Linked DNA regions of Homo sapiens. The protein of the gene in region 3 purifies or fractionates together with the protein of the main gene of each other region. This does not show direct contact. Each region holds a gene or a part of one and is shown on either strand. Other genes may lie near its edges.

Region 1 (3,500 bases), on a different chromosome or scaffold from region 3:
ATTAGAACAGAGGAAACGGAATGGGGGGATGAAGGGGAGCTGTGATGCAGGCAGTTTACCCATTAGAACAAAAAGAGATGGACGGAGCTGCCTCTCCCCAGCACCCCGCCTTTGGAACTCACAGCAGGATGGGCTGGTCTGAGGTGATAACATTCCCATTCATGTGAAGGTTGCACTTCATCGGCTGCCCTGAAAAACCAAAGAAAGAAAAAGGCTCTGCTATGAGACCTCGGCTCCTCACACAAGAGGACAAGGGCTGTACCTCCATTATCAATGGTCAAAGCACCCACCACTGGCAGTTCTGGCTCCACAGATGGAGATGGGGCTGCTAGGTTCCAGTCAAGCCAGACACTAAGAAAATCCCAGGGCGTGAGGAAACCTCAGCAGTGGAGCACCAAGAGGCAAAGTGGCCACAAACCTTGCTTCATACAGGAAGAGATGAGTGGGAAGTGAGGGAGAAACGAGACTCAATGTGAAGCCATCCAAGTAGTAAGGGAAAAGGTTTATGCTATCAAATTCAGTGAAAAGATGATCAAAAGCATTATGTACAGGCTTCTACTCTGTCTACAAAGGATGAAGCACTAGGAAGACCACACTCCCACTGTATACAAAGCATAACATGTGTAACGGTAATAGCACAAAAAAGAGGAAGAAGGAACAGGGCCATGTGGGAGTAACATTTCCATATCTTACTCGAGTTAAGTTAGTGAATACATCATTAAAGGAATTAAAATATTGGGGAAAAAATGTGAAAGAAAAGCCACTGAAGAGGAACAAAAAAGTAAAATGGGGCCGGGCGCGGTGGCTCACGCCTGTAATCCCAGCACTTTGAGAGGCTGAGGCGGGTGGATCACGAAGTCAGGAGATCGAGACCATCCTGGCTAACATGGTGAAACCCCGTCCCTGCTAAAAATACAAAAAATTAGCTGGGTGTGGTGGCGGGCGCCTGTAGTCCCAGCTACTCAGGAGGCTGAAGCAGGAGAATGGCGTGAACCTGGGAGGTAGAGCTTGCAGTGAGCAGAGACCACATGCCACTGCACTCCAGCCTGGGCAACAGAGCGAGACTCCACCTCAAAAAAAAAAAAAAAAAAGTAAAATGGAAGAAATAAACCTAATTATCAATATTAAATATGAATGGATTAAATAATCCAATCCAAAGACAGATTGTCAGATTGAATTCAAATAAAAAAAAAACCAGTAAGATCTAACTATACACTCTCTATAGGTGACACATTTTTCTTTCTTTCTTTTTTTTTTTTTTTGAGATGGAGTTTCGCTCTTATTGCCCAGGCTGGAGGGCAATGGTGCGATCTCGGCTCACGGCAACCTCCGCCTCCTGGGTTCAAGCGATTATCCTGCCTCAGCCTCCGGAGTAACTGGGATTACAGGCATGTACCACCACACCTGGCTAATTTTGTATTTTTAGTAGAGATGGGGTTTCCTCATATTGGTCAAGCTGGTCTCGAACTCCCAATCAGGTGATCCGCCTGGCGGATTACAGGAGTGAGCCATTGTGCCCAGCCTAGGAAACACATTTTTACAGTTGATGAGAGAAAAAGATTGAAAGTAAGAGTGGGCCAGGCTTGGTGGCTCATGCCTGTAATCCCAGCACTTTGCAAGGCTGAGATGGGCAGATCACTTGAAGCCAGGAGTTTGACAGCAGCCTGGCCAACATGGCAGAAACCCCATTTCTACTAAAAATACTAAAAATTAGCTGAGTGTGGTGGTGCACACCTGTAGTCTCAGCCACTCAGGAGGCTGAGGCACAAAAATCGCTTGAACCTGGGAGGAAGACGTTGCAGTGAGCCAAGATCATGCCACTGCATTCCAGCCTGGGCGACAGAGCGAGACTCCGTCTCAAAAAAAAAAAAAAAAAGTGAACAAAGATATATCACTCAAATAGCAACCCTAAGAAAGCTGGTCTTTTACTTATTAGCTTATTAGCTATTAGTAATATAAAATGAAATATACTTTAAAACAACAAAAAAAGTGACTAGAGGTAAAGAGAGATTTAAATTTGACTGAAGGGTCAATTCATCAGGAAGAAAACAATCAAACATATATGCAAGTAACAACAGAACCTCAAATATATAAAATAAAAATACACAGAAGTGAAAGGAACAGACCAACAGTAATAAAGATCTCGCCGGGTGCAGTGGCTCACACCTCTAATCCCAGCACTTTGGGAAGCCCAGGTGGACGGATCACTTGAGGTCAGGACTTCAAAACCAGCCTGGCCAACATGAGGTCAGGAAATCAAGACCATCCTGGCTGACACAGTGAAACCCCATCTCTACGAAAAATACAAATATTAGCTGGGCGTGACAGTGGGCACCTGTAATCCCAGCTACTTGGGAGGCTGAGGCAGGAGAATTGCTTGAACCCGGGAGGCAGAGGTTGCAGTGAGCTGAGATCATGCCACTGCACTCCAGCCTGGGTGACAGAGGGAGACTCCGTATCAAAAAAAAAAAACAGAACCTCAGTATTTCACTTTCAATACTAGATAGAACCAAGCAGATCAACAATGAAACGCACTTAAACATTACAAAGCAACAAGACATAATAGACATGTACAGAACATTCCACCTAACAACAAGAAAATACATATTTTCCTTAAACACTCATAGAAGAAAAGAAAATCTGGAAAATTCATGAATATATGGAAATTGAAACAATCCTAAATAACCAATGGGTCAAAGGAGAAATCACAAGGGAGATTAGAAAATAATTCAAGATGAATGAAAATGAAGGCATGATATACCAAAACACGGAATGCAGTTACAGCCATGCTTAGAATATATAGCTGTAAATGCACATACAGTCATGTATCATTTAACCATGGGAATACATTCCAGAGTGCAGTGGCACGATCACAGCTCACTACAGCCTCAACTTCCCAGGCTCAAGTGATCCTCCCACCTCAGCCTCCCCAGCATCTGGGACTACAGGCACACGCCACCACGCGCCCAGCTAATTTATTTTTTGAGACAGGGTCTTGCCACGTTGCACAGGTTGGTCTCAAGTTTCTAGGCTCAAGCGATCCTCCTGCCTCAGCCTCCCAAAGTGCTGGAATTACAGGCTTCAGCCACCACACCCGGCTGTACAGCATGTTACTCTACTGAGTAGAGTAGGCAACTGTATTTGTACATCTAAACGTAGAAAAAATACAGTAAAAATATGGTATTATAATGTTATGGGCCCACTGTCATATATGTGGTCTGCTGTTAACCAAAAAGTCCTTATACTGCATATGAATACATTAAAAAGCAGAAATAAACCTACAGAATGGGAGAAAATATTGGTAAATCACTTATCTGATAAGGGACTTAAGAATATGTAAAGTACTTCTACAACTCAGTATTTAAAAAGCAGACAAAGATTCTGTACAGGCATTTCTCCAAAGATAGCTGGGCACAGTGGCTCATGCCTATAATCCTAGCACTTTTGAGAGGCCGAGGTGGGCAGATCACCTGAGGTCAGGAGTTTGAGACCAGCCCGGC
Region 2 (3,500 bases), on a different chromosome or scaffold from region 3:
GACGTAGGTGCAAACACAACTGGAACTATTCCATAAAATATTCATACATGTCACCACTGTGTAATTTCTTCCTACACCCTGAATGGAGGCTTCCTTTAAACTTTAAATGAAAATTATAATTGAGCTTGAGTCACAAAGAGTTTACCTCCCCAATAATGTTAATTATGTCACTAGATTTCATCCTCTTGCATCCCTACTCACTGAAATTCTTCAAGATTTCTTAATGTGAGGCAGGATAATTTAATTTTATAGGGAAATGCAATTGTGAACATGGAAAAGCATTATTTGGAGGTATACCCAAGATACTTCTACAAGAACAATAAGCTAAAATGCTAAATCATTTCCATTTACTCACTAACTAAACAACCTTTCATACCAGGAGCTCAGAGTCTGGAGGTGAAGGGGAAGGTGAAGACAGACAATAAACACATATGCAAATAAGCAAAGAAGATTAAGTGTAAGTCATGATCAGTGCTGAGAAGAAAATAAATTCAGAGCTGTGACACAGACTACAAACTGCAACAAACTGCAGAAACAAACTGCAACACAGATCATCTATAAACATACATAGCAGATTGACATCAAAGCCTTTCTAGGTTGCCTTTATGACTTCTTGACATATGCTTAGGTTCCGAGGATCAAAGCCCCTCAAACTTACCTGTTTCACTTTCTAGAACTAAAGCTAGTCTGTGACATCTCTAGCAGAAAATAAGGCACATCGACCATTTCACAGCACCTCTGCAATTAGGCTTTTGATTATGTGGTGTGATAACTTATCCACACTGAAACATTTTCAAAAGAGAAAACAGATTATTATTATTATTTTGTGTTTTTTTTTTTTTTGAGACAGAGTCTCGCTCTGTTGCCCAGGCTAGAGTACAGTGGTGTGATCTTGGCTCACTCTAACCTCCGCCTTTCAGGTTCAAGCAATTCTCCTGCCTCAGCCTCTCAAGTAGCTGGGATTACAGACATGCACCAGCACGCCCAGATAATTTTTGTATTTTTAGTAGAGACGGGGTTTCGCCATGTTGGCCAGACTGGTCTCGAGCTTCTGACTTCAGGTGATTCGCCTGCCTCAGCTTCCTGAAGTGCTGGGATTACAGGCTATCATTGTTATTTTTTAAGACAAGGTCTTGTTCTATGTTTCAGGCTGGAGTGCAGTGGCATGATCACAGCTCCTCTTGGGCTCAAGCAATCCCCCTGCCTCAGCCTCCCAAGTGGCTGGGACGACAGACATGCATGCCACCATGCTTGGCTAATGCACTTTTTAAAATTTTTTGTAGAAATGGAGTCTCCCTGTATTGCCGAGGCTGGTTTTGAACTCCTGGGCTCAAGCAATACCCCGGCCTTGACCTTTTGGAAATGTTGGGATTACAGGCCTGAGTCACCCTGCCCAGCCGGGATGTTTTTAATAATTATGCCAGAGCAGGCACAAACAAGGACTTTCCACCAGGGCAAACTAGGCCATATGGTTACCCTAATTATATACCACATCAAATGTAAATAGCCAAAAATTTCAAGAGTAGTTTATAGTTCCAGATATATTTAAATTATAATATCCAAGCCCTAAATTATAATATGGACAATATAAACCAAGTGAATCCCTTACTAAATATAAAGCTCTGAATATCTCACATTGTACACAAAATCAATTTCAGATGCATTATAAACGTCAATGTGAAAAAGCAAAGCACAAAAAGGTTTAAAGATAATCAAAGTATCTCTATGATGTTTTAAAAAAAGAAACACTAGCCATAAAAAACTGATGAACATGTTTACATTAAAATGAAGAACTTCTGTTAATTTAAAGAAACTACTAAATGGAAAAAATGTTTGCAATATATACATCCAACAATGGAGATATATTCAGAATACAGAACTCTAGAAAAAGACGTGTTTCGATTTAAAAAAGGAAAAGATTTCAAAGGCATTTTATGAAAAATGAAATCCAAACACCCAGATATGAAAAGCTGGTCAGCCCCATTTAGTAATGAGGGAAATGATTAAAACTAAATACAACTACATACCCACCAGGATTGGCTAGAATTGAAATATATGATACCACGTACGGTTGTTGGTAAGGGATATGAAACAAGAACTCTTACATACTAATAAATGAAGTAAAAACCACTAAACAACTACTTTGAAAAACTACCTGGCATTACCTGATAAAGACCAACATTCCCCATGTTCTTGCAATTCAAATTCTAAGTATATAATCTCAAGAAAACGAAATAAACATGCACCAGTGCACTTAAACAGAAATGTTCATAAAAGCATTGTTTATAATAGCCCCAAACTGCAAACAATCTAAATGCAATATCCAAAACAATGGCAGAAGGAATAAACTTGTGTTATATTCATGATGGAATATTATGAAACAATAAAAGCTAAAAATAAAATATATACAACACAATCCTATTTACATAAAGTTAAAAATGGGCAAAATTAAACTCTATTATTTAGAGATGTAAACTTATATGGTAAAACTATAAATGTCAGAAGAACATTTATATCTAGCTTAAATTAAGATGGTGATAGTTGTGATGGGAAAATATAGGTGGTGGGAGGCTTCTGGGATGCTGGCAATGTCTGTCTTGCCCTGGGTGGTGGTTACAAAGATGTTTGTTTAAAAATATTTCATTTTTATCTTATGTATCTTTTCAGCCTGTGTAGTTAGGTTTCCCAATAACACTCTCCCTGAGAAATTAAAAAAAAAAAAGTTCAAAAGAGAATGCTAAGACTGTTACTCAAAGAGATTAACTCTTAATCCATAGTTTAAAAACAGTAACAGGGATCTCTACATCCAAATACACACTGTATTATAAATTCCATGAATAAACTTTTGGCTTCAGGCCGGGTGCAGTGCCTCACACCTGTAATCCCAGCACTTTGGGAGGCCAAGGTGGGTGGATCATCTGAGGTCAGGAGTTTGAGACCAGCCTGGCCAACATGGTGAAACCCCGTCTCTACTCAAAATACAAAAATTAGCCAGCTGTGTTGGGCGCCTGTAGTCCCAGCTACTCGGAAGGCTGTGGCAGAACTGCTTGAACCCGGGAGGTGGAGGCTGCAGCGAGCCAAGATCGCACCACTGCACTCCAGCCTGGGCAAGAGCAAGACTCTGTCTCAAAACAACAACAAAAAAAAACGAAAACAAAACAAAACAAACACTTTTGGCTTTAATCTTTTAGACTACCATTCTTCGTTCAAATTTTGAAATGGAAGGTGAAATTTTCTGATATCGAATTACTCAACAAGTCATGTAAATTTTAAAATTTTAAGATTGAACTCCTTGCTTCTAATCTTGAAATCTGAAATGTGTCCAGTATTGACTAGACAGTTATAATGTAGTTTTCGATTAGATAATATCATGTAGACTAATATATAAAGGTTTGATAATGTCAGTTTTTGCGAACATAATCAAATTCCCCAAACTGGTTACACATTTAACTCATGTTGCTTAAGAAAAAGCAGCCGGGTGCGGTGGCTCATGCCTGTAA
Region 3 (2,598 bases):
AGGCAGAAGGTACTGAGTAATCAGCCAACTACTGCCAACCACAGTGGAGGGAAAGGTTCCATAAGTGCAGCATTTTCCACTCTTGGCTGCTAGGCTCGTAGAAGGTGGCGTCAGATGAGAGGCTGGCCCTTGAGAGTTGTTCATACTCCAAAAGGCTCTAAGCTGTTTCACTGACACGAAGAAGTCAGGTAAAGAGGCAATGCCATGCTCTCTTATCTTCTCTTGACAAAAATCCACCTTGTATCCCGTTCCTCCCTTCTAAATCCACAAGTATTTCCTGCTGCAGCCAGGTGTGCTCCACAACGAAAAGAGCAGGCAAGTCTTTCCAGGCTAAGGGGTTCCATGTCTTTCAGAGACCTACCCTTGGGCCAGGCAGAAGCAATGGCAGAGGGCAGGAGAGCTCTGCAGGCTCCAGCAGCAAGAGGGTGGCACATTCAGGGCTGGCTGGGGCCCCATGGTGGGGACAGTTTGCAGGGCACAGACAAGGCCATACACAGAGGTCATAAAACAAAATTTATCTTTAATTTGTAAGTGTCAACAGCAGTACAAAAGATGGAGTGATGACAACTAGATTAGGGTAGAGAGGACAGTCTTGAGGTAAATGAGCATAAATAGGCAGTTCTTATAGACACTCCCCTAAGGGGCCTGAGCCCCATCACGGCATATACATTATCACCCAAAGATGGCATGTTGAACATATCAGGAAAGCACCTTGTGCAAAAAGGAAAAAAAAAAAGTAGCTAAGGTGCCAACATACACCAGGATAGATAAAGACAGTGTGTCTTTCAATTTTGTCTTTTCCCTTAATTATGAGGCAGAGGAGGGGAAGACTTTGAAAAGTACCACTGAAAGATTATTCAATGTTGAGCTTTATCTCACGTCAATACTGCACAACAAAATCCAAGAAGTTTGTGTATGCAACAAAGCTAAGAACAATGATTCATTCCTGTAAATTTGAAGAGATTTTTTTTATTTTTCCCATTTCTTTAATCCTTAGCAAACTTTTTATTATTATTATTATCAAGAGGAGAGTGTGAGAAAGATGTGATGGCAACCCTTAAGGTCATTTAAAAACTTTACACTGGACTGTACAAGATTTTTTTTTGATAAACTATTTACATTTTCAGACTTTCAAACATATTCAAAGCAGCAATAGACACTAGTTTTTATGTTTTTTTCTTTTTTTCTAATTGCCCAAATAGTTACCAGCCATGGGCCAAGTAGGTACCTGCATTATACATAGAATTTCTACAAAGAAAATCTGCAGTTAAAATTTGCTCCAGGATGTATTAAATGCCCTTAGCAATTCAAGGGCCACACCCAGTGTTGCTATAGGAACCAAAGCACAGTACCTTGACAACAGAGTTGCAGTTGTCCCAACAGCCCTACACAAACTTTACACTTTGAAACAGCAGCCAGCATGTCAGTCCAGCATGTCAGTGAATTGTGCTGATTAAATTAACATAGAATACAATTTCACAATATACATCACAAACAAATTACAACGTCGGGGGAAATAAAAGAGTTACAGTAAGATAAGTTATGTAGTAACAGCTTATAAGCTTGTCTAAGGTAATAAAAATTTTACATGGCAAATACAATAATGAATGAACATAAATGCTAAGCATTCTAATTTGCTACAAGCTGGAGGAGGGTACAATAAAGACTGCACTTTCAAAAAAGCAAAAACACATATGACAAAGGAAGACAAAGGGAGAATGCACATGAGCAGACCTGCAATGTGCAGCATACAAAACAGTTAAATATTTGCACATTCCCCATACTCCAAGAGCACCAGCACTGAGGCCTCACTTTATGCTTGTGGTTCTTCAGGAATAAGAAACTACTGAGCAAGATATGTCACTGAGTTTTCTTCAAGCGTTCATATTGCCATGGACACTGATTAGAAGAGTTATCTGCATTAAGCATTACCTTTCTGCCCCCACCCCGCCCACCCTTACCTCTGCCCCAAAGGTACCAGCATTCCAAATATTTGTTCATGAGCTTTTGGAAAGCAATCTGTCCCCAAAGGGAAAGATAGAATGGGGATGAAAAGGAAATGTGTTTGCATATCAATATTTTCAATGATATTAGTACAGGGGCACGCTCAATAGGATATGGCATCAGAAACAGAACATCATTGGCAGGAATAACAGACAGAAGTTGTTTATTAGGGAAGAAAACATGTCAGGGAGCAGATGACTTAAGGAAATGATGCAAGTGCTTTTGTGAAAGGACAAATGAGGTCATACAATATTATTATACTTTGAGAAGTGAGCTTAAGTGCCAACTCAATTCTTAGACAAACGTGTACAAAATCAGGCAGGGCTACAGCAACCATTTTTGTCATTTTCTCATTAAAAAGGAAGACCCAGTAGTAATTTCAATACATTCCTCTAGCTGCATTTCTTTGCAGTTGTTGGCACTTGGTACAGGACTTCTCATATGATTTAAAATTACTAAGTGATTCTTTTTCCTCTCCCTAATGAGTTGGTAGAGGTCAATTCTTTGCAAAATGAGTAAATTGAGAGAAGCAGCCTCAGCTGTGCTGTTCAAGTGACCAGGCTGCCTTCCTACTGAGGGTAAATGGGCTTTCCT
Region 4 (3,500 bases), on a different chromosome or scaffold from region 3:
TTTCATGTATAACTTTTTGTACTGAATTGGAAACGGGTTGTGGTCTTCTTTTCTTATTTTTTGAGCTTTTAAAATTAAACTGACTATGCACATCTTTTCCTCACCCCTCTGTCTTCCACAGGATGAATTTCACCCATTCATCGAGGCACTTCTTCCACATGTCCGTGCAATTGCCTATACTTGGTTCAACCTGCAGGCTCGAAAACGCAAGTACTTTAAAAAGCATGAGAAGCGAATGTCAAAGGATGAAGAAAGAGCAGTCAAAGATGAGCTTCTCAGTGAAAAGCCTGAAATCAAACAGAAGTGGGCATCCAGGCTCCTTGCCAAACTGCGCAAAGATATTCGCCAGGAGTATCGAGAGGACTTTGTGCTCACCGTGACTGGCAAGAAGCACCCGTGCTGTGTCTTATCCAATCCCGACCAGAAGGGTAAGATTAGGAGAATCGACTGCCTGCGACAGGCAGACAAAGTCTGGCGTCTGGATCTAGTCATGGTGATCCTGTTCAAAGGCATCCCCTTGGAAAGTACCGATGGAGAGCGGCTCATGAAATCCCCACATTGCACAAACCCAGCACTTTGTGTCCAGCCACATCATATCACAGTATCAGTTAAGGAGCTTGATTTGTTTTTGGCATACTACGTGCAGGAGCAAGGTAGGAGCAGATTGTTCTTTTTTCTAGCACGGCAAACACCGCCTACAAATCTCCGTAGACAGAGTATCTGGCTTGAGTTAGATGGTCCTCAAGGCCCCTAGATATCCTCCACCCTCTCTGGGTATAGTAGGGTGTCCGCTTTCACTCACATGTCCGCTGCCATGTGCGAGCCATGTAAATAGACACAGAGCTTTCGTACCTGGATAGGCTTGGATATTTAAGAAAGACCACAAAGAGGTGCGTTTTCAAGTATCTTTAAAATAATACTGTTTTTCAAAGACATAGGGTAGTCTAACAAATATAGTTCATTACACTATACTTTCTGTCGTAGGCTACATTTTTGCATCTAATCTAGTAATCTTTTCCTGATTTGAAAATATAACTTTATTTATGAATAGCCAAACCATCCTAGATAATTTTTGTATTAACCTTATTAATTAATGAGGTAGAGGGACTTTGTTTATGAACTTAGTGGTATCGCACTGAAAATAGAACTAATGTTTACTATTACAAAATGCTTAAGATAGATAATATCAAAAGTATATCTTACGTAGACCTAGATTTACTTAATTTTAATATTTCTATCATCACTTTTGATTGTGCAATATTCACTGTCGATTAAATGGAATTGAGTTATTATTTAAATTATTTATAGTATGTTCCCAGAGTTACTTGGGAACACTTAATAATGTTAGTTTACTTGTATGTAAATTCATAAAACTTACCGAGGAGGAAAGTCGCAGCGCTGCTTACAGAACAAAAAACAGAAAGTGGACTGGTTACACTGGTTTAAGATAAATCTTAAAAAGAATACAGAAACTGCATACCATACCTATTATTTAAAATACCTGAGAAGGAGAATGGTATACATTTTACCTAAATAATTAAAAAAGATGATGTTATTACTGAATATTTGAGTTAATGAAATGTTTATTATTTTTATTTTTCTTAATATATTTTCCTTAAGTAGGTAAGAATTTCTTTTCTTCAAATAAATGCATCAAGATATAGATGTCCTTGCATTACCAACAATCCATAGTAAAACAATCATTTTACAAAGCCGCATACCAAAAGTAGACTGAAGTTTGAGCTGTCACAGATGGTAGGTCATTTCCAAACTTGGCCTGGTGGGAGGAAAAATGGCCTGCAGATAGCCAGGTGACAGACTGTTACCTGAGGTTTGTTATATAAATGTGGGACTTAATAAACTGCTATGAGCTTTATTATTCAAAAAAATCAAAATTACTTTTTTGACTCTGAATTCTAGGCCCTCACTATGTGCTTTTTGTCTTGATTTTCTTGTAGCTTTGGAGATAGGCTTAAGTGTCATTTTAGAATTTTTAGTCTGATTTTAAATAATGGTGTTGGACATTGCACTTTTAGAAATATTACCTTTTCCTGAAAAAATGAAACATTGCATTTAATATTTCCATGCATTTAAGAATTACAGTCCAAATAATGATGGTTTGGGGAAAATAATATTTTTGTCCCATGTGTCCTAAAATAAAACTCAGTAACACATGACACTTATTTGATTGACAGATGTCTAGGAGGTGACACTTTAAGGTGGGCTGTATATATGTGTTGGATTGACTATAAATGTGTTGTAACTGTGTTGTGAAAGTCAAGGATGGAAGTAAAGTTTCAAAAAGTGGGTCATGTAACTTTTTAGTGCAGGGAGGGAAGATTTGCAACCACTTCACTACTGCTCACATTTTAAGTTGCTTGAAGGCTAGGTTTTGAGGTGTGCCTGCCTGCATGCACATTTACTCCTGGGGAAGGCAGCCAGCTCTCTTAGTTTTGATGAACTGACAATAAAGATTTGTAGAGATAGATTGAAAAAAGAAAAAAAACGCATAAATGCCTTCCATGTTGCACCACTGGTCATGATAACTATAAAGTTTTAAGCAACTCTTAAGAGACCATGGTTTTAGATAAAACATTGATTTTGTTGTTGGTTCAACAATCTCTATTGTAAGAACTTTTCATTATTTTATCTTGTGTATATAACTTGTATCCTCTGCTACCTGCCAGTGCATCATCTTCTCTTAACATCTGTTGGTTCTTCCTTTGAAAAACTCACGTCAGGATGCTTTTGTGTTTTCCCCTTTTCAAAATTTATATATTCTTCTTTGTCAAGTGTAGGTTAATTATGTCATTTTATAGTGCAATTGATTAAAGAAGGCAGATTTTAAAAGATAATTCTCCGGTCAGTTAGAGGGCTGCATATCGCGAGTGATGACTTTTTATTTGTCTTCTAAGTACATGATAACTCACCTAAGTCTGTTTTATAAATCAGGAAAAGAAGTATAAAGGAAAACACGAAAGAAAAATCAGAAAAGAGAAATGTAATGTTTGCAGCAGAAAGAGCAACAAAATTACGTTTCCCCCTTTTTCTCTCTCCCCACTTCTAAATGACTGGGAGAAAAACATGAGAAAGAACAGAGAGAATGCCAAAGATGGTTGCCACTGGCACCAGGATTGGCATCAGACCCTCTTTGTTTAGCTCAGGATGCCTGTGATTTGTTAGTTGGCATCCGCATTGCAGTGTGGAGTGATGTTACAATATATTGACAATTTCCAGATCTAGAAATGTCAATAGTCCTCTTGGTTATTTATACAAGATCACACACTGCATCTCTTCTGGAAGACGAAATAAAGACCAACATGTACTAAAGTTTCATTGTTGACCAACTTCCTATGCTTTTCTTTTTTCCCTCTTTCTCTTTTGGTTCAACCCACACTTTTTTTCCTTCTTCATGCCCAGCAGCCTCATCTTTCTGAAATGTGGGAAGAGTTACCAGAGCTTTGACACAAGCTATAGTGCTACATCTGCATCTGATATGG
Region 5 (3,500 bases), on a different chromosome or scaffold from region 3:
AATAACTGAGATGAAGGCTGAGAATAACTACATTTTTGTCAAGTAGATGGGCATTCCAGGGAAATAACAGCACAGAGGCTGAGTTCCACAAGCCTAGAGCACAGCAAGGAGTTCAGGTGAGTTGAAAGCACACTCATAGAGAGAAGTAGTCAGAAAGAAAAGGTGGTAAAGATTTGGGGCATTACTAGAAAAGCAACGTAAGAAATCTATACTTCATATGCAACACAGCCTCAGTTTAGGAAAGGTAATCTAGTAGCAAGAAGCAAGAACTAATTAATCGATAAAACATAAACAATGGTAAAACAAAGTAACTACAAACCAACCATTAAGAAAAAAAAATGTGGTTAGCATCACGGTGAAGAAACAGAAGGGAGAATAAGACAAATGCATGAACCAGAAACTGTCAATTTAGAAATTCCAAGGCATGTTGACTAACTGAATAGAACAAGGAAGGAGAAGTCAATGAAAACATCAGTATTTTGAATCTGGATTAGTTGTGGATTGATGGATATACGTGCTGGTTTATTTGAGGGTGGGGTAGAAGTTAATAAGTTTGGTTTTTAAAATGCTGCATGTGTATTATTACACTTCACTCAGCCATCTTTTGCAATATTTTTTAAAAGTTTGACTTGCTGACTGTACCAAATTGCACAATCATACTGCAATACCAACAACTCCATTCAATCCTAATACTAATCATCTGGAGTTCGGGCAGGCCCCACAGGTTAAGGGCTCAGTTTCACAAGGCTGCCCCACTTCAGATGCCAACTGCAATGAGGTGCCCAGGCTACTCACACTTCTCCCTGGCTGAAGTCTACAAATTCTGGGGTTATCACACCTCCCCCCATTGCTATTACTATAACAATTCACAGGACTCAGGAAAACACCGTACTTACTGTTACAGTTTATTATAAAGGATACAAATGAAGAGCCAGATGAAGAGGTACACAGGGCCAGTCTGAAGGGTCAGGGTGCACCACCCTCCCAGCACGAGGAGGTGCTCACCAACTCAGAAGCTCCCTAAACCTGATGATTAAATCACTGACTAATGGTGATTACCACCAATCTCCAGCCCCTCCCCTCGAGGGAGGCTGGGGGTTGAGCCTGAACGTTCTAACCCTCTTAACATGGGGTTAGTTTTTCTGACAAGCCCCCACCCCAAAGCTATCTAGGGCCCCCACCCCCGCTATAAGCCATCTCATTAGTGTAGAAAAGATAGTAAATTCAAAGGGTTTCCAAAGTTCTGCCGAGGGAACCTGGGCAGAAAAAAATATTCATTTTTTATCATACCACAGCATCCCCCAAAAGGGCATGTCCACCAGAACCTCAGAATGTGGCCTTATTTAGAAATAGAATCTATGCAGATGTAATTAGTTAAAATGAAGTCATTCTGGATTAAGACTGGCCCCTAAATCCAAGGACTGGCGTGGCAATTCCATTTCTGGGTATACACTCAAAAGAACTGAAAGCAGGCACTTGAAGACACATTAATATACTCAAGCTCCTATTAGTATTATTTACAATAACCAAAAGGTGGAAGCAACTCAAGTGTCTATTGAAGGATATATGGTTTAAAAAAAAATAGTATAGATATATAATGGAATATTATTTAGCCTTAAAAAGGAAGTTCTGACACATGCTACGACACTGATGAATCTTGAAGACATCATGCTAAGTGAAATAATGACTCAAAATCTTACAGGGCAAGCTAACACAAGAACCCTGTACAGCCTGTTTATATTCTTAATATATTCTGAGTCATTTCCCTCTGTTTTCCTTTAGAATACAAATACTTTTTAAAGTTCCAGTTCATAGCAGTCATATTAAACAGAACCAAGAAGAAAAAATGTGTCCCCATTAGTCCAGAACTTTAAAGGAAGAACAGCACATCCATGAAAGCCAAGGGGTAAAATATTAACTGAGCAAAACGAAAGAGGTCAATGACCTCCTTACCTGGAAAATCTCCTTCTAAGGCCTAAACATTGTACAAGACATTCTATTTTAATAGGGGGATCAATTTTCCTTCAAGACTGAAGATATCTACTAGATTTCTACAATTCTCTATCATGCAGCAATCAGACATCTACAGTTAACACAAACTTTTACTTACCATTCTATTTCTTCTTCTTTTCCAGAATCCTCGACTTGGATAAGATACCACATAGACTATTAGCTTGTGATAGGGTTCTAGCAATTATCTAATCTAAGGGTCAGCAAACCAAAGCCCATGGGCCAAGTAGGGCCTGCCACCTGTTTCTGCCCAAATTTAGCTACCACCCGTGTATGTAAATAAGCTTTTAATGGAACACAGCTATTCCAATTCAGGCATATATTGTCTATGGCTGCTTTCAAGGTAAACGGCGGAGTTCAGCACTTCCAACAAAACTCATCTGCCCTGCAAAGCCTAAAATATTTACTATCTGACCCTTTACAGAAAAAGTTTGCTGACCTTTGTATTCCAAAGGTTCTCAACCTTCTTTTTCCTCAATATCACACTCATGTATAATATGTTCCTAGTCCAAATCACTAATAGTCAAAATTCCTTATTTTATAGATGAGGAAATCCAGATCCTTTATTTAAATATTAACTACAAATCAGGTAATGTCCAATAACTTTCGAAGTGAACATATGAGCCTTACAGCATAACTAGTAAGTTCTGAATAGCCAAGCCAAATTTTCAGAAAGAGTTCCTACACCATGTTGCTTTAGAAATAATTTGTAGTCACTGTTTTAAAAATCTCCTATGTTACACGGGCCCCAGGAGAGGTTCTCCCTAAAATGAAGTTTTTATTTTGTTTATGAAGTGTAGTCCTCATTGGTCATTTGTTTGTCTTTCAACAAACTTTCATCATTCAGGGTTTAAAAATCAATCATAATAGAATTCCTGCTTGATATGAGATAGGACCCCTCCTATTATGGAAGTTATAAAGGCTTGCTCTATAAACTTGGGTAGCCGAGAAGAGGCAAGTGAGCTGAGCTCAGCCTACTGGATGTTCCCATCATGACTTAAAATCTATAGGAACTGACACTCATTTCTTTTCCCAGGAACCTAGACCCTTTTTTTTTTTTTTTTTTTTGGTGAGACAAAGAGTTTCCCTGTTGCCCAGGCTGGAGTGCAGTGGTGCGATCTCGGCTCACTACAACCTCCACCTCCTGGCCTAGCCATGAAGCCTTCTAAATGGCTGAGTTTAAGGGATGAAATGTCAAACAAAGAGGAGAAAATGTTGTTAAAAACTTCTAGAATGAAAAAAGGTCACATAAAAAATGATTAGGAATCAGAATGTCCTCAAACTTCTCAAGAGCAGATCTGGATGCCAGAAAACACAACAATACCGCCAAAAATCTTACAAAAATAAACTCAAATCTAAAATTCTGGACCCAACAAAACCACCAATCAAGTTGTGAAAATTAAAATTTCCTTCAGACTCAGGAGTCTCAATCTCAAAAAATTTACCTTCAACACACACACTCAAGAAGCTGTCGGCCAGGTGCAGTGGCT
Region 6 (3,500 bases), about 18 Mb from region 3:
ATTTGCTGAATTCCAACAGAAGACTTGGACACTGATGAAATTCTTATTTTCTTTCATAAGCTAAGAAAGAAACCAAGGAACCAATTAAAACAAAAGTGAAAAAATATTTTTTAATTATTTTTTTAAAATAGAGATGGTGTCTCGCTACACTGCCCAGACTGGTCTTGAACTCCTGACCTCAAGTGATCCTCCCATCTCAGCCTCCTAAAGTACTAGGATTATAGGTACGAGCCACCTAACCTGGCCCTGAAGAAAATAGTTTTATCACTCTTACCTGTGTCGCTTCTGGTTGTACAGGAACTTGATTAGGCTGAGCAAGTCTAGATTCAGAATGAACTGCAAAGGTGACCAAAACATTTTTGTCAAACAAAATTAAATTTTTAGAGAGACGCGTCTAAATACCTTTTATTTCGCTATTAAAGGCTTTTTTTTTTTTTTTTTTTTTTTGCGGGGGGGGGGGGGGGGGGAGTGTCTCACTCTGTCACCCAGGCTGGAGTACAGTGATGTGATCTTAGCTCACTGCAACCTCTGCCTCCCAGGCTCAAGTGATCCTCCCACCTCAGCCTCCCAAGTAGCTGTGACTACAGGTGTGTGCCACCACACTCGGATAATATTTGTATTTTTAGTAGAGACAGGGTTTCGCCATGTTGCCCAGGCTGGTCTCAAACTCCTAGGCTCAAGCAATCTGCCCACCTCAGCCTCCCAAAGTGCTGGGATTATAGGAATGAACCACCATGCCCAGCAATTAAAGGTAAATTTCTATAGCCAAACCATAAATAAACTTTTTAGCAATCATGAAAGTAAATTGGGAAATGCAGATAAAATTTTAGCTTTCAAGTGAGCATTTTGGTTTACCGGCAGTGGTTATTATTTAATAGTTTACTTTCACAATTGGTTTCATCTTGTTTTTTCCAAAAGTAAAGTAAAATGTTAATAGAATGCACTAACAAATAATCAGTGCCATGAAAAAAGACTTTTAAAGCTGTACAATAAAGTGGCATTATTCATACTCTAGACCTCAGACAGATAGTATTCCATTTTGACCTTTTGTTTCTTCTGAAACAGGGTCTCACTGTGTTGCCCAGGCTGGAGTGCAGTGGCGCCATCATAGCTAACTGTAGTCTCAAACTCTGGGCTCAAGAAATCCTCCCACCTTGGCTTCTTGAGTAGCTGGGACTATAGATGCATGCCACCCTGCCAAGCTAACTTTTTTATTTGACTAATTTTTAATTTTTTTGTAGAGGCGAGGTCTATGTTGCTCAGGCTGGTCTCAAACTCCTGGGCTCAAGTGATCCTCCCTCCTCAGCCTCCCAAAGCACTGAGATTACAGGCATGAGCTACCATACCCGGCTCAATATATGTTAACATAACCAACTTTCAATTTCAAGTGTTTCTAGAGAAAAAGAAAATTTAAAATATGTACTTTTCGGCCAGGCACAGTGGCTCATGCTTGTAATCCCAGCACTTTGGGAGGCCGAGGCGGGTGGATCACGAGGTCAAGAGATTGACACCATCCTGGCCAACATGGTGAAACCCCATCTCTACTTAAAATACAAAAATTAGCTGGGTGTAGTGTGGTGTGTGCCTGTACTTTCAGCTACTGGGGAGGCTGAGGCAGGAGAATCCCTTGAACCCGGGAGGCAGGGGTTGCAGCGTGCCGAGCCAAGAATGCGCCACTGCACTCCAGCCTGGCGATAGAGCGAGACTGCGTCTCTAAATAAACAAATAAATAATATATACTTTTTAACAGCCTATATTCAACTCAGCATGCATCTTCTTAACAATTCCCATCACTCTCTCACCTCCCTTCCCAACAATGATTAAACAGATAATCAAAACGACGATCTTTGGTTAGTCATTTAGAAAGTACCCATTTTCACTGGAGAGTCTAATGGACTCAGCATTATGTAAATAACTAAATAGCCTTACAGGTTTTATCAGTGCTATGTATACTGACTTTCACACAACTCCCCAGCTGAGAAAACGACTTACTCTCTTCCTTTGGTAGAGCTCAGAAAATGAACACTAAAAACCATGATTGCTCTCTTGTAGGTGTCACCTTTGATCTGTTTTCTAAAACTCTTGATAGAAATGTGAGAGCCGGGCGCGGTGGCTCACGCCTGTAATCCCAGCACTTTGGGAGGCCGAGGCGGGCGGATCACGAGGTCAGGAGATCGAGACCATCCCGGCTAAAACAGTGAAACCCCGTCTCTACTAAAAATACAAAAAATTAGCCGGGTGTAGTGGCGGGCGCCTGTAGTCCCAGCTACTTGGGAGGCTGAGGCAGGAGAATGGCGTGAACCCGGGAGGCGGAGCTTGCAGTGAGCCGAGATTGCGCCACTGCACTCCAGCCTGGGCGACAGAGCGAGACTCCGTCTCAAAAAAAAAAAAAAAAAAAAAATGTGAGAGATATGAGCTCCCTTTACTTCAGAAAAATCCTAACTACCTTACACCAAATTAACTGTCATTAAACATACTTTTACTCAGCAATTTATTTTATGATATTTAACATCATGCAACATTAAATAGGTTATTTTATTTAGTTCCACTTTTGTGCAACTAAAACTGATGTGTTCTGGGAAAAACCAAGATGACTCACAATCACTAATAGTCCTGGAGAGAAGGTCCACTTAACCCAATGGAAGGCACCAACTGTATTTAGTGCTACTACTTCAAATAATGGTGTAAGTCCAGAAAGAGTCTGAAACTGTCTTGTGGTTTCTCTCTTCCCTTTGCCTCTTACATATTCCCTTACCCACTTCATTGCTGTGTATTTTTTTAAGGTAATAAAATCCAGAAATTCTCCTAGAAAGCTAAAAGCATTCAAAAAAAGGCACCTCTATTATTTTTACTCCTAGATTAATTTTGAAATTTTAAAAGCCAAGCAAAATTTCACTTGTTAAAGTTACAAAAACAGACAAAACTGGTCTATTACAGTTACAAGTACGGAAGTGGTTGCTATCGCTAGGGGTGAGGGTAACTAGTGATTGAAAGGAAACAACGTAGGTTTCTGGGGTACTGGTAATGTTTCATTTCTTAATCTAGCTGCAGGTGTTTTCAGTTTATAAAAACTCATTAAACTTGCGTATATTTTTCTATATCTACATGCCAATGAAAAGTTTAAAAATAAACAGTTATAAACTACATTTTTAATTCAAATCATAGGAACAATAACATTCTTTCTATCAAATTAAAAGACCTAAGAGTCAAAATTAAACAGTCATTAAAATAAACAAAATTTATTTTCACAATCTTTTTAAAACCTGAAAGTACTGGCCTTATATTTCTCTCTCACATAAAAATGTACCACTACTAACCTGGAGGGCAAACCAGCTGGGGCATGTCCATGTTTTGTGTTGGATTCATAGGCTGTGCAGATACAATGGCAGGATCAAGTGTCTGATTTTCAAAATCCAGCATTGAATCCTACAGGTTAAGTTAGGATAGAATAAAGTCAAATAATATAAACACTTAAACTTTCTGTTACAGAGTCTGACTAA
Region 7 (3,500 bases), on a different chromosome or scaffold from region 3:
AGGGGAAAGGGGGGAAGAAAATATATATTAAAAAAAAAAAAAAAAAGAAAGAAAATGGGGAAGTCTATAATAATTGATATTACTTCTTTGCTATTCCAAAAAAAAGTGTGCATCTAAACTCAGATCTCCCTCAAATATTTATTTGATAACAATTCATTTGGCCACAGTTTAAGACATTAATTCATTTCCTGACTACAGTTGCAAAAAAAAAGAAAAAGAAAAAGAAACAAAAAGAAAAAAAAGATGAAAGGAATGGGAATGGGGGAAAAAAAAGAAAAAAAAGGGGGAATGAATAAAAGTAGTTAGCTTGGTTAAGTCTGCTAAGACAATGAATGCCTGGATATACAGTTATGGGTCCAGAGGCATTTTAAGACATGGTTCAGAGACAGATTCTTGATCTGTTGGCTGTTAACACTGTACTAACCTTCATGTCTTGTTCAGCCTTCAACGCAGCCTGGGCCTGATTACCTCTGACTCCAGATAGTGATCCACAAGGACCCCTGGCTACATGTGGCAAACGAGCATGGCTCATGAGGCCTGTGGTCAGCGGAGGAGGCATCTGACTGGCCAGTGCCATTGGTGGCCTCTGAACAGGCGCTGGGAAGGTGTTAGTATGTGGGGCTCTTACCAATGGAGGGACCAGGTTAGGCTGGGAGAGAATCTGAGTGAAAAAAACAAAACATACAACATTGAACTGTTAAAAAAAAAAAAAAAAAAAAAACTGCCAACTAGACCAGGTTGGCTCATCCCAGAGTAAATCTGTGCCCATCCTACCAGTGAAAGGAAGTGTACAGATTGTGCCATTCCATTAACAAGGACAAGGAATAAACAGGCCATGCTTGGAGAGTTTAACAGAAAAACTAGGCAAAGCATGCTATGGCACTTCAGTTGGTCCTAGCATCTCAGTTGTAAATTCTGAAGGGGGGATAGAAAGACTTTTAATTAGGCTATCTTTTCAAAAGGTAGTTGCAGAAAAGGCACACACCTGTAACAAATGTAATCTGAAGATAAATAAAATCAATACTAATTCAACAAATGTGAATTTCTCAGGAACCAGTTCTAGTTTGTGAGAGTTCTTAGTCCTTTTATACGATCAGCAAGGGGAAGAGAAGCCAACATTTTTTACATATATTAAAACATCTTTTTGGAAATTTTATCTCAATTGCACATAAATATCTTAACAACAACAAAAAACAACTTTAAACCTAGAAAACTTCAAGCACTGGGACCCTTCGCTGAAAAGTCAACTCCTTAAAAAAAGTTAAAAGGAAAAGGACTCATTATCAGAGCTGTGTGGGGAATCTTTTAACTATTTCTCTTGTCTGCTTTAGAACTAAACAATTACCATGTCTGGCTATAAATCGCAGACTATCTTTATAAAATAAATTTATTGTTAAATTCAGAAACAATTTTTTATTAAAAACTGTACTTCTTAACTGGTTAACATAAGGCAAGATAATAATTTATCAGATTAGCAACTATTTTTAAGTAAATAATACTCATTTCTTAATTATGTCTGCCCACCTGGGGTGCAAACTGTGTAGGAAATGGTTGTGTCATTCTCACAGTGGCAGGGGCTGACTGGAACTGCTTCTGGTAGACAATGCTGTTCATTTTGCTGGACTGGCTGTTCGGACTTGTAGAAGTAGCCCTTGGAAAGAAGCCATTACTAGTCAGTATAGTAATACCAAGTAAATAATGCTGTTAGATTTTTGCAAACACCGTTCTTGGTATTTTCATCATACTTGGTAGTTGGTAAAAATTTACTATGATGATTACCAAAACATTCTGGTAGAAGAGAGACATTGGAGGAGCAGAGGTAAGAAAGGATACCAGTTACCAGTTAGATTGGCTGGTTCGAGACCAGCTTGGACAATATTTTTTTAAAAATTAGCCAGGTGTGGTGGCACGTGTATGTAGTCCCAGCTACTCAGGAGGCTGAGGCAGGAGGCTTGCTTGAGCCCAGGTGTTTGAGGTTGCAGTGAGCTATAATCATGGCACTGCACTCTAGTCTGGGTAACAGTGTGAGACTCTGTCTCAAAAAAAATAAAAGAAAAAAAGGTTTGCTCTGTAACAAAAGAATTTACTTAAAATATAGTACAATAAACACATTTTAAATAATTTAAAAGCTTAACATTTTAGACAAAACTATCAAAAAGAATGTCTTAATAATTCCTTTTCTGCTTGGAAAAGGGATTATGTCACACAGGACTGATAAGTATTTAACAAATAGTGACCAAATTGGAATTTCATAAGCAAATTTAAATGCCCATTTTACCGGAAGGGACTAGATGTTGGTGTGGTGCTTCTACCAGCGATTGGAGGTGTGCCTGGTTTTATATCAATGCCACTTCCAAAGGCTTTTAGTTCCATTTCAGACATCTGAGGAGAAGCATAAAATAAACTTAACATTTCTTTAATTCCACAAGCTAAGTGCTGTGTTTACATGTCCTATACGTGAAGACGTAATCTAGGAAAGGGCAAAGAACCTTAGTACAAAACTCCTATAGTTAGGCTTCAAGTATTATGGAATTACCTGACCAAACAGACTTATAATTAAATAAGCCCAAGAGACACTATAAATCCAATTCTTCCAATAAATTTGTGAATTCTTTGTTATTAGGTAAAAACTAGATGGGGCCAAACACATTAAAAGTAAATAGATAAAATGTAAATATACTGGGGTTTGAGATTTTTGCAGGGTGGTAAAAACTGACGCATTTTAGTTTTTTAGATAACACAGATGCATATATCTGAACACACTACCTTAAATTCTCAAATAACCTGTGCAAATGTCTCTTTACTTACTTTTCCTGTGGTTGCAATCATGCTATGCTGTGTTCCAGCAGGAATTAATCCTCTGAAAGGCTGGCTTACTTGTGCAGGACGACTCAGACTCTGAGCCTGTGCTTGGGGAGTGGTATGCTGTAATGGGGGCTGAAGAGTCTGAGGCAAAGCAATTAGAGGTTGCCCTGTAGATCCAAAATTAGGCAAGGAAAGCTGCGATGCTGGTAAAGGTACTGTAACCTAGAAAATAAGTAAAGAGAAACTGAAGCAATTTGTTTCTGTTTACTACAGACATATCCATACAACTATACACAACTCTTCAAATACTTTTGAGTAAGATTTCAAACAGAACACATCGGCCAGGTGCAGTGGCTCATGCCTGTAATCCCAGCACTTTGGAAGGCCAAGGCGGGCAGATCACGAGGTCAAGAGATCGAGACCATCCTGGCCAACATGGTGAAACCCTGTCTCTACTAAAAAAAAAAAATACGAAAATTAGCTGCATGTGGTGGCATGTGCCTGTAGTCTCAGCTACTTGGGAGGCTGAGGCATGAGAATCACTTGGACCCAGGAGGGGGAGGTTGCAGTGAGCCGAGATCCTGCCACTGCACTCCAGCCTGGCGACAGAGCGAGACTCTGTCTCAAAATAAAATAAAATAAAATAAAATAAAATAAAATAAAATAAAATAAAATAAAATACATAGAACACATCC

What was found.
Region 1: the proteins of SOX6 (region 3) and POLDIP3 purify together in Homo sapiens (affinity purification with mass spectrometry; one large-scale study listed by BioGRID and IntAct). This does not show direct contact.
Region 2: the proteins of SOX6 (region 3) and LSM14A purify together in Homo sapiens (affinity purification with mass spectrometry; one large-scale study listed by BioGRID and IntAct). This does not show direct contact.
Region 4: the proteins of SOX6 (region 3) and NFIB purify together in Homo sapiens (co-immunoprecipitation; one large-scale study listed by IntAct). This does not show direct contact.
Region 5: the proteins of SOX6 (region 3) and RBM33 purify together in Homo sapiens (affinity purification with mass spectrometry; one large-scale study listed by BioGRID and IntAct). This does not show direct contact.
Region 6: the proteins of SOX6 (region 3) and CAPRIN1 purify together in Homo sapiens (affinity purification with mass spectrometry; one large-scale study listed by BioGRID and IntAct). This does not show direct contact.
Region 7: the proteins of SOX6 (region 3) and PRRC2C purify together in Homo sapiens (affinity purification with mass spectrometry; one large-scale study listed by BioGRID and IntAct). This does not show direct contact.

Annotation. Positions count from the first base shown.
Region 1 is NC_000022.11:42,587,384-42,590,883, forward strand, and holds part of POLDIP3 (polymerase delta-interacting protein 3), read right to left. Parts: intron 190-3,500; coding exon 123-189; intron 1-122. UniProt on the Homo sapiens protein: Is involved in regulation of translation. Is preferentially associated with CBC-bound spliced mRNA-protein complexes during the pioneer round of mRNA translation. Contributes to enhanced translational efficiency of spliced over nonspliced mRNAs.
Region 2 is NC_000019.10:34,175,504-34,179,003, reverse strand, and holds part of LSM14A (protein LSM14 homolog A), read right to left. Parts: intron 1-3,500. UniProt on the Homo sapiens protein: Essential for formation of P-bodies, cytoplasmic structures that provide storage sites for translationally inactive mRNAs and protect them from degradation. Acts as a repressor of mRNA translation. May play a role in mitotic spindle assembly.
Region 3 is NC_000011.10:15,965,949-15,968,546, forward strand, and holds the end of SOX6 (transcription factor SOX-6), read right to left. Parts: 3' UTR 501-2,598; downstream 1-500. UniProt on the Homo sapiens protein: Transcription factor that plays a key role in several developmental processes, including neurogenesis, chondrocytes differentiation and cartilage formation.
Region 4 is NC_000009.12:14,304,142-14,307,641, reverse strand, and holds part of NFIB (nuclear factor 1 B-type), read left to right. Parts: intron 1-121; coding exon 122-653; intron 654-796; exon of another isoform or gene 797-890; intron 891-1,623; coding exon of another isoform or gene 1,624-1,664; exon of another isoform or gene 1,665-1,889; intron 1,890-3,500.
Region 5 is NC_000007.14:155,651,161-155,654,660, reverse strand, and holds part of RBM33 (RNA-binding protein 33), read right to left. Parts: intron 1-3,500. UniProt on the Homo sapiens protein: RNA reader protein, which recognizes and binds specific RNAs, thereby regulating RNA metabolic processes, such as mRNA export, mRNA stability and/or translation.
Region 6 is NC_000011.10:34,086,231-34,089,730, reverse strand, and holds part of CAPRIN1 (caprin-1), read right to left. Parts: intron 3,427-3,500; coding exon 3,318-3,426; intron 337-3,317; coding exon 275-336; intron 1-274. UniProt on the Homo sapiens protein: mRNA-binding protein that acts as a regulator of mRNAs transport, translation and/or stability, and which is involved in neurogenesis, synaptic plasticity in neurons and cell proliferation and migration in multiple cell types.
Region 7 is NC_000001.11:171,586,530-171,590,029, reverse strand, and holds part of PRRC2C (protein PRRC2C), read right to left. Parts: intron 3,028-3,500; coding exon 2,809-3,027; intron 2,383-2,808; coding exon 2,279-2,382; intron 1,652-2,278; coding exon 1,525-1,651; intron 662-1,524; coding exon 425-661; intron 1-424. UniProt on the Homo sapiens protein: Required for efficient formation of stress granules.